Linked DNA regions of Homo sapiens. The protein of the gene in region 3 purifies or fractionates together with the protein of the main gene of each other region. This does not show direct contact. Each region holds a gene or a part of one and is shown on either strand. Other genes may lie near its edges. The genes, in order: PHF20, PRMT8 and RSRC1.

What was found.
Region 1: the proteins of RSRC1 (region 3) and PHF20 purify together in Homo sapiens (co-immunoprecipitation; one large-scale study listed by IntAct). This does not show direct contact.
Region 2: the proteins of RSRC1 (region 3) and PRMT8 purify together in Homo sapiens (affinity purification with mass spectrometry; one large-scale study listed by BioGRID and IntAct). This does not show direct contact.

What each region holds. Positions count from the first base shown.
Region 1 is NC_000020.11:35,774,887-35,778,543, reverse strand, and holds part of PHF20 (PHD finger protein 20), read right to left. Parts: intron 1-3,657. UniProt on the Homo sapiens protein: Methyllysine-binding protein, component of the MOF histone acetyltransferase protein complex.
Region 2 is NC_000012.12:3,564,180-3,567,836, reverse strand, and holds part of PRMT8 (protein arginine N-methyltransferase 8), read right to left. Parts: intron 1-3,657. UniProt on the Homo sapiens protein: S-adenosyl-L-methionine-dependent and membrane-associated arginine methyltransferase that can both catalyze the formation of omega-N monomethylarginine (MMA) and asymmetrical dimethylarginine (aDMA) in proteins such as NIFK, myelin basic protein, histone H4, H2A and H2A/H2B dimer.
Region 3 is NC_000003.12:158,539,959-158,543,186, reverse strand, and holds part of RSRC1 (serine/Arginine-related protein 53), read right to left. Parts: intron 1-3,228. UniProt on the Homo sapiens protein: Has a role in alternative splicing and transcription regulation. Involved in both constitutive and alternative pre-mRNA splicing. May have a role in the recognition of the 3' splice site during the second step of splicing.

The DNA.
Region 1 (3,657 bases), on a different chromosome or scaffold from region 3:
TCCTGACTTCAGGTGATCCATCCGACTTGGCCTCCCAAAGTGCTGGGATTACAGGCGTGAGCCACAGTGCCTGTCTCAATTTTCATTAGGTTACCCTATAGTCAATAGCCTGTAAGGGGCAGTCACTGGCAAAGATGGATTAGACAAAGACATCACCCTCCTTTTCTCTAGGCTCATAATCCAATCAAGGATCTTGACTAAGCATACATTTTGGTTTAAAGAATGTTTATCAAGAAAAATGTCCCAGCTTAACCAACATAGTGAAACCTTGTCTCTACTAAAACTACAAAAAATTAGTTGGGCATGGTGGTGCGCACCTATAATCCCAGCTACTCAGGAGGCTGAGGCACAAGAATCGCTTGAATTCAGGATGCACAGGTTGCAGTAAGCCAAGACTGCGCCACTACACTCCAGCCTAGGCAACAGAGCAAGACCCTTTCTCAAAATAAATAAATAAATAAAATTAATAAAAAGACTTTATCAAGAAAAATGTAAACATCCTCCCTATTATTTCTTAGGAAGATGATGAAAGAAGAAAACTCCAGAGGTTAAATATACCTTTAAGTCCTGACTTCCAAGCCCCCTCAGCAACTGTCTTTGACAATAATCAGGTGCTCTCAAAGAACTGTTGGTTTTATTCATTTGTTAAGTTATTTGAAATACAGATTTCTTATCATTATCCTTAACAATTCCTTGTTCTGGGTTTTGTGGCTGTGTGTTCCTAGAAGAGCACTTGGAAGCAATGGGGTCTCGTGCTGTCACCCAGCTGTAGTGCAGTGGTACAATCCTAGCTCACTGCAGACTCTGAACTCCCTCGTCAGCCTCCCAAGGAGCTGGGACTACAAGCACGCACCACCATGCCTGACTACTTTTTTGTTTTTGGTGGGGGAGTAGAGACAGGAATCTCACTTTGTTGCCCAGGCTGGTCTTGAACTCCTGGCTTCAAGCAATCCTCCCACTCTGGCCTCCCAAAGTGTTGGGATTACAGGCGTAAGCCACTGCACCCACCCAACCACGAGTAATTGTCAAATGGTATTTGCACTTAGGATACACTTTCAAACTTCAGAAAGGAAGTTTAAGCACCTTTACAATCCAGGAAGACATACCAGGCAACTGATTCCCACAGATACAGGAGATCTTGGGGAAGGGGACTAAAAACATTACATCTCATACTTTCCCCAAATCCCAGCCAAAGGCAAACAACCTGCTTGCTTCCTCTTTAAATTTCATGCCACCTGCCCTGCTAATTCAAACCAAAAAACAAAGCTGTGGTATGGAGGAAATGAAGTCCCTTTTTAAGTATACATTAGATAAGAGAACTGACAAGTAAATACGGGGTATATAAGGTACAGACTCCTTCTTGGTAAGGCAGAGAAGTCACAAACATTGAATGGAGAACTCAGGAAGACTTCTTTGAGGATTTCAGGTAGTTCTGAATGAAATACAGCATGGAACTGGAAGAAGACATGGAAGCAAGAAGAACGCTGAAGTTGGGTTGAGAACAAGCTGGCTGCCTCAGCTAGAAAAAAAGATAATGGCAGAAGTGACTTGGACAAGGGAATAACTGGCAGGCTGCCCAAGGGAGCACATGAAAGAAATCAGATCTGCTGCAACAAGCTACCACAGGCAATGGGGTTTCTAAGCAAGGTAGCGACCAAGATTCAGCCAGGGTGGACATTGCAGATCATCAGCCCCTCATTTTACAAATGGGGAGAAGCAGGCCCATAGCATTAAGTGACTTGCCTGAGGTCTCACAGTAAATGGAAGAGCTAGGACTAGAGCCAAATCCAGATCAAATCCGTTACTGAATAGGATCTGACACTCATGTGAGGAATAGGGGTTGGAGGAGGACAGGGACACAAAATAGTCTAGTCATTCAGGTTTGTCCTGATTAGGGCTGGCAACAGGATCACGTGGAAGAGGGCCAGACAGGTGACAGCCAGGGAAATAGGTACAGATGATCCAACACACTTAGAAAGGAAAAACACTTTCAGAGGTAGTCTTTGTCTCCAAAAAAATTTTTTGAAAAAAGGAAAAACCCACTTGAGACTTAGAATAGATTAGACATGTGGGTACAAAAGGAGAAAGATCATCATAAAGCATGATCACCATCAAAGAATATCATCTTCTCCCCAGCATTTGTCTTTCTGGAGCACCCATTTAGAGAAAGCCAGAAGCTTCCATTCGAGGTCGGGGAACATAGCTTTATCCTGGCTTTTCCTGGCCCATTTCCAGAACCCAGAAAACCAAGAAGGACTCTTTGGAAATTCCAACACCTGTGACCCACTGATTTGGGGTATCACAGACTCCCTACTCATGGTAGGATGAGGAACCAGACAGACAAGCTGGCTATGCAGTATTTATTAGAATGATTCTATATCAATAATTATGTTCACATTCAAGTAAGAAATATGTAACCATTTAAATTTGGCAATAGCCAGGCATGGCAGCTCACACCTATAATCCCAACACTTTGGGAAGCTAAGGTGGAGGACTGCTTGAGCCCAGAAGTTCAAGACCAACCTGGGCAAAATGGCAAGATCTCATCTCTACAAAAAATTTAAAATTAGCCAGGTGTGGTGGCACGTGCCAGTGGTCCCTGAAACTCAAGAGGCTGAGGGGAGGATCGCTTGAGCCCAGAAGGTTGAGGCTGCAGTAAGCCGTGATCACACCACTGCACTCCAGCTTGGGTGACAGAATGAGACCCTGTCCCCACCCAAAATATATATATATACACACAGAAACCAAACTCCTGGAGAAGTTTTGGCCTTTTTTTTTTTTTTTTTTTTGGAGACAGAGTCTCACTCTGTGGCCCAGGCTGGAGTGCAGTGGTGCAATTTTGGCTCACTGCAACCTCCGCCTCCCGGGTTCAAGCAAGTATTCTGCCTCAGCCTCCCATGTAGCTGGGATTACAGGTGCCTGCCACCACACCCAGGTAATTTTTCTATTTTTAGTAGAGACAGGGTTTCACTGTGTTAGCCAGACTGGTCTCGAACTCCTGACCTCGTGATCTGCCCGCCTCAGCTCCCAAAGTGCTGGGATTACAAGCATGAGCCACCGTGCCCAGCCAGTTTTGGCCAATATTTAAAAAGCTATGTGCTAGAATAACTAATTGAGTATAACTAATAAAGGGGACTATGGCCTTGTACAAACTTTTAAGGGATGTGTGTCTGGATAAAGATAAAATAAAAAAATATAAGGCTAACCACCACCTTCCTATTTTCACAGAGAAACTTTGTCTTCGTGTATGAAACCTCACTACTAAAAGTGTAGTTCAGTAACATCAGCATCACCTGCAAATCAGAAATGCATTCAGGTCCCATCCTAGATCTACCAAATCAGAATCAGCATTTCAACAAGACCCCTGGGTGACTTACATGCACATTCAAGTTTGAGAAGCACTGGTGTAGAATACTTTAAGGGTGCACTGTACGGCAGTACACAGATAAAGTATCAAGCAGCCAAAGAAAGAGACAAAGTATCTGTTCACTTTCAGTATACTATATTTTATTAGGTACTGCTCAGACAGACCTCCAGTGATTTTTATAAATTTGGTACTTCCTAATGGCCACATCATCTAACTGTGGGATCTATTTCATTTCTGGAAATAACACAACTTAGTTCTAGGGCTTTCATGCACATGAAATATAAAACAGC
Region 2 (3,657 bases), on a different chromosome or scaffold from region 3:
CTCCCAAAGTGCTGGGATTACAGGCATGAGCCACCACAGCCAGCCAATGTGTGTTAATTGACCAAGTTATCAGCAAGACTGCTGGTCAACAGTAGGCTGATAGTAGCTTACTTTTGTGGGAGTCAAAAATTATGCTTGGATTTTCAACTGTGTGGGGGATTGGCACCCCTAACCCCTGTGGTAGTCGGGGTCAACTGTTATTTTTGTTTACAACTAAGGAAACCGAGGCTTAGAGAGGTTGAGTAGCAGCAGTGGAAACAGAGCCCAGATCTGATATGACATGACTCTAAAACTCTTCTCAAGGCCCCCACCCCTATGTTAGGTTACCATGACAATTCAAACTCAAAGAAAGCATAGATGCCTCCTCTATTGCTTTTGCATTTGTTCACAGCCAGGCTCAATACCAAATGGGTGCCCTTCTAGTGTTTGTGAGGGAGGAAATTGATATTTTGATGAGAGCATGGGCTCTGCAGTCAGGGAAACCTAGGTTTAAGTGCCAGATCTTCTCACCATTAGCTGTACGACTTTAGACAAGTTACTTGACCTAACTAAACTCCAATTCCCAAGTGAACAACCATGAAAAGCAATATCAATTTAGAGGGTGATTGTATTGATCAAATGAAATAACACATGTGGAGTGCCAGGCCCATAGCTAAAGCTCAACAGAAGGTGGACATTATCTGACATATTCCTGCTTGTTGATCCACAGATGGAGAGGGGAAGCAGATAGGGCCAGGGTCAAAGCCCCTGTCCCCAGTGGCTTCTTCTTATGAGTCACCTTCAAGAACTTCAGTTTCCTCTGTGGGAGGAGACACTTCTTAGTTGAGTTTTTGATAAACTGACATAGACATACACATAATTTTGGAGTCCCTTTTTGTATTTGTTGCTGTAAAGATCTGAGCAAGCTAGTTTAGATACCACTGTTAAATTGGCAGGCTGATGTATTGGTTGGTTTGTTCTTTCTGAACATTTCCTTTGAAAGGTTACATATATTCATGCTCTGAAACTCTCATTCTGCAATATCCTCTGAAAAAAACTCACACAATGCCTGAGCTTTGCTGGGAAAAACAAACAATGGCCTGTACTTAGGAGTAAAAATCAAAAGAACCACATCTGCCTAGAATCTGAGTTTCATGAAAATTAATTTGGACTGAGGCTCCTGGATGGCAAAGAGCACACCGTTTGCTGGCTTTATTTAGTTTCTTCACAGTGAATAATGCAGGTGATGGAGTGTCCATTAGCAGCTTCTAATAACAGTTTACTCTCCACTATGTGGTATTTAATCAAGCTTTAATTGGATACAGCCTGCTCTACAAGGAGTAAGACACTTTGTACACATGCATTGACCCTGGTCACTCTACAGTGAGGTTCAGTCTTGGGTGGCCCTCCTGACTGGTTACTGCTCAAAAGCCCCTACCATTAAAAAGTATGAGCAGGAAGAGCTATTCTCCAAAAGTTTTGGTGGGAGTGGGAGGGGTAGGTGTTGAAGTTTCTCTGGGTCTCAGAGACCCCAGGGCAGGAACTCAACTGAGAGCAGGGCCCAGGGTGCACTAAGAAAATTCATAGAGTGGCAAAGTAAAGGATTTTTTAAAATGCAAACATTGTGCCTAATTTATTTCTTATTTTGAAAGAGAACTGACAAATATATGCATGACTCACCTGCCTAATCATTTGCATGCAAAGCCTGGCTTGCCTTAGTTTTGTAAACTTAAAAATTGTCTTTAATGGCCTCCCTTACTTTTTTTTCTTTGCACGTTTCTTGAAGGTTCTTCCCTAATGTCTGCCTGTGTCTGTGTGGCTATGGGTCAGTTCCTCCTCCTGCATTTATATCATGACCTCTCTGTAGCCCTAGAAGATGTTTTCTCCTGCCTCCGGGGCCTCATGACCTCTACCCTGAGTGTTTAGTACAAGGCTCCACCCATGACAATTTTTGTGGACAGGACTCTATTAGGAGCTGCAGGAAACAGACAAGGAGTAATCCATCATCAAGTCTAACAAACAGGTATGTATGAAATATTCCTCAGGTGTCCCCCAAAGAGAGTTACTGCTGCTCATGTTCTCTGTGTTAGCCCTCTTATCAATTAGTTGCTGTAACCTCATCAATATGGATTACAAGAGATGATTGATAGATAGACAGACGATATAGAAGACAGATAGATGATAGCTAGATATAGGGGGTCACAGAATAGCAAAAATCACAATCTCTGCTTGCAAAAAGGCAGAAGGAATCAGTTAACCCTATAAAATCCTCAACAGTCTGGACTTCTGTTCTCTTAACATCACCCTTCTACATCTATTCAAGTGCAGACATTTCTCAGTGTGGACATGGCCCCACAGTTGGCTTGGTGAGGAGATGAGCCCTTTGTCAAAGGAAAAGGACCCATCTCCCTTCAATCCAGTGCTGGACTGGCTTTTAGACTCCATTTATCCCCTTTCTCCGGTGCTTTTGTGCTCAACCTGCACAACTTTATGCTGGAATCCTAAAAGGCAGCAACTTACGCTCTTGTTCCAGGTGACAGCTAATCTCAATCAAACATCTCCTCTCTTTTATTTTCCTCATTAGGAAAAAAAAAAAGAAGGGAGGTTGAATCTGAAATTCTTTGCAGTGCCAGAAAGCTGCGGTTCTTCAAATGTGTACTGAGCACTTGTTATGTGTAAGGCATTCTGCAAGATTCACTGGTGGAGACAGCTGGCATCAATAAAAAAAGATGGTGCCTCCAAGTTCCAGTTTGACTGTCATTTTCAACACTTCCTGGGTCCTTTTATTTTTTATTTTTAAGAGGTCACATTCTTTCTGTGCAGCCAAATACAACTGTCCAGCTGAATCACCATGAATATTCTTCCTGCAGTCTGTAGTCACCACCAGCAACCACTTAAACTTCCAGATTCAATTTTCCAATCTACAAAATGCTACCTGTCATGGTGGGGCATATGCCAACTTACTAGGGGCTATTGGCCAACATAGGGCATTAGGCTGGCTCAAGGAAGTGTGTGGGCACACACAGCAGCAGTCTTCCCTTCTCCTCCATGCAAAGGATTTTCAAGGGGGTCTAAGCTATTGATATTAAGATTCCGAGCAGCCGTAGGCTGCAGAGCTCCATGCCCAATCTGGACCCCAAGTCACTAAAACTGCATCAACTCAAGGTTGCACTGAGGTCACCGTCCGGATCCATGTTTTTATTCCAGAAGGATGATGGAAAGTTTGTTCAACGAACTATGACAGGACTCTGGCTGGTAAATTACAGAATGATTAATCAGAACTAAATGCACAGCAGGGAGCAATAGACTCTAAATTGGGAAAACTTCTCCTGTAGCTTCAAGTTTGTAAGTGAGACATCCAGATTTTTAAAAATGGTTTTGAGTGGAATTTTTTCTTTTTGGTTTGAGTGGTTCTTACAGAAATCTAGTCATTCTCATTAATGGTCATTTTTGTTTTTAAACAAATCAGGCCAGCTCAACCTCATTTGAGCCTCCAGTGCATCCATCAGGGTCAGCTGATGCCCGTAGGATCTGAAGTTAGTGATCATTTTTAGGTCCTCACTCTTTCAGAGAGCAGGTCCTGTGCCACACAAGAGGAGGCATGAGGGTCACAGGCATGGGAACATATTATGAGCCTATGAAGCCCCCTGACCCCCCTGCCAACCCCACTGCAGCAAA
Region 3 (3,228 bases):
TGTTTTAGAAATACAGTTATTTTATTTTTATATTTGTTTGTTTAGGAATAACTATATTTAGGAATATAGTTATAGATATATAGAAATAGAATATAGGAATAACTATATTGTATTTGTTTTAGGAATAACAAATAGAAAAATGCTGAGAAAATGTCAATCATTTCTTATGATAAGCACATTTTTCTTAAGAAATTGGTACTTACGTGCCTATACTATTGAAATATACATATATTTCATATATCTAAATTCTATTAATCAAAACAAGCTTACAACAAATATCCAACATTTAGTTGGCCAATTTAGGTATGAAAAGTAAATTCAAAGGTTATCTTTAGAAAAATAGCCTTATTGAGTTATAGAATTCATATACCATACAATTTACCCTTTTAAAGTACATAATTCAATGGCTTTTCACATATCCATGGAGTTGTGCAATTATTACCAGAATCAACTTTAGAACATTTTCATCATCCCCCACAAAACCTCATACCATTAGCAATCATTCCCCATTCCTTCCAACCTTTCCATCCTAGGTAACAATTAATCTTCTTTCTCTATGGATTTGCCTATTCTAGACATTTCAGATAAAAGGAATCATACAATATGTGGTCTTTCATGACTGGTTCTTTCATTTAGCATAATTTTTTCTTTTGAGACAGAGTCTTACTCTGTCACCCAGGTGGGAGTGCAGTGGCACAATCTTGGCTCACTGCAACCTCTACCTCCTAGGTTCAAGTGATTCTCCTGCTTCAGCCTCCCGAGTATCTGGGATTACAGGTGCACACCACCATGCACACTCGGCTAATTTTTGTATTTTCAGTAGAGACGGTGTCTTGCCATGTTGGCCAGGGTGATCTCGAACTCCTGTCCTCAAGTGATCAGCCCGCCTTGGCCTCCCAAAGTGCTAGGATTACAGGCGTGAGCCACCGTGCCCAGCCACATAATGTTTTTAAGGTTCATCCATGTTGCAGCATGTATCAGTACTTCATTATTCTTTATTGCTAAATAATGTCCCATTGTATGGATCTACCACATTTTATTTATCCATTCATCAGTTGATGAACTCAAAGGTTGTCTCGGAGCTACTTAAAATATTAAAATATATATATAAAAGTTTGAAAAAAAGGTACGATGTATCTTTGGCAAAAAATAAAACTCTAGGATTTCTTATACCATCATGCAAACCATAGACTCCCAATTTATTCCACCTTTACTGAGTATTCACCAGGTGCGATACACTGTACCAAGTGCTGGGGATACAACTAATAAATCATTGTTTCTGCCTTGAAGGAGCCAGCAGAGTAGTGCTTACTTAGTTACATTTCAGTAGCTTCTTCCCTAAGAAAGAAGGCCAAGGAGTGACTGATTAGCAGTAAGGTTACAGGGATAATATGAAATGGATTAGATCAGAAGCTGAAATTAAAAAGTAAAATTAAAAAAAAACAAGATGAATAGGAGATTGTTATGTAGCCTTTTTTATACCCATTTGTTCCACACCTATTGTTTTTCAATTTCCATTTATTTTAACTTATCTATAATTCTGAACATTTCACTTCTCTGAACAAAGCCAAAAACAGATGTCACTAAGAAAAATATACAGAGGATAAAATATGCATGAATTAAACTGTTCTTAGGTTAATTTGTTTTAGAGTTGGAGATCCATTTATTTAACCAGTATTTATTGAGCACTACTAATTGCTAAGCACTGGGTACACAGGCAGAATCAAATAGATATGGTTCCTGTCCCAAGTGGCAATTATATGTTGCTAATGGAGTTGACAGATTATAAACAAATAAATTCCAAAATAATGCATAATCACAAATTGTAGTATGTGCTATAAAGGACTATACAAGGTGCTGACAAAGAATGATGGGGATCAGGAAGGGAAAAACATCTACTTTAGATTGGGTGGCTAGAGATGGCTTCTCTAGGAGGTGAAATTTAAGCCCTGAAGACTTAGAAGGAGCCAGGCAGGTGAAAAGGAAGAATGGTTCTCTGGCCAGAGGGAAAAGACAAAGATCCTGAGAGAGAAGGGCTTGGTGTCTTTGAAGATCAGAAAAAAGGCCAGAGGGGCTGGTGTATAGTGAGCAAAAAGACAGTGAGACACTGCAGGCCAGAACTTGGGGTATTTCTTCCTTAACACAGCCACATCACCACTCTGCATGGGTATCACTTCCCAGCACCACAGCAGGAAAGTGCCCTCATACAGAAAGCTGGGTAACTGTGGGGCTCACCTTTTATTTCCCTTCTCCAAAGGATCACCCTCCTGAGCTGCCTATTGTTACATTCCTGAAAACAATGTCTTACACATCTTGTCAAGTTCTATAGCTGTTTATGGTGGGAGGGCAAATTTGGTACCAGTTATTCTGTAATGGTCAGATGGTCAGTAAAGTCTAATTATTCTTGAAAAATATTGTTTTGGCTGCTGAATGGGTCCTGGACTAGATAAATGCAAAAGGAAAATCAGGAAGAACAACCAGAGGGCTACTATAAAAGTTAAAGAATGAGATGATGATGTGGATTTAAATGGTGGCTGTGGATTGTGAAGAGGAGACAAGTTATGAGCTATTTTGGGGATGATGATATCAAGATCCACTTTTTTTTTTTAAGGCATGTGTTTTATTCAATTAAAATACTCTAATTTTTATTCTAATGGAAGCTGATCAGCATTCATAGGACAGATTTATTCCCTCATGGACAAAAGGGGTAGATATCTGAGGGATAGATATCTGGGCAGTCATGTATGTTTAGGAATTCTTACAAAGTAAGAGAAATCTATAAATTATTTTCAAATGTTAAGATGCTTATGACTACTAAATCTAACAATGATGCCAGTGTTAATGATAATATTAACTTTTATAGACATTTAAATAAATATTTATTCAATTTGTTTTGGCAGCTTTATTCTCATATTTTGGTGTCAGCAATTTTTTTTGCCAAGTCTCAAACATTTGTATGTCTCCAACACACTGTGCCTAGATGGTTTGTGGCCCTAAGTGATATTATACTGACCCTTTACACAACTGAGAACATTTAAAAAGCCCAATATTCTGCACAAGTGCAAGTGGGAAATACGCTAATCCAAGAGGTTCAAGACATTGATTTTTGGTAGTCTATACTGCCTTACGGGGACTGTAAGAGCATATCATTCTGCGTATCTTAGCCATGGCATGATAGGGCTTAGCTAGGAGACACTTTTCATGTTAAACTGCCTTAAAAATATGTGC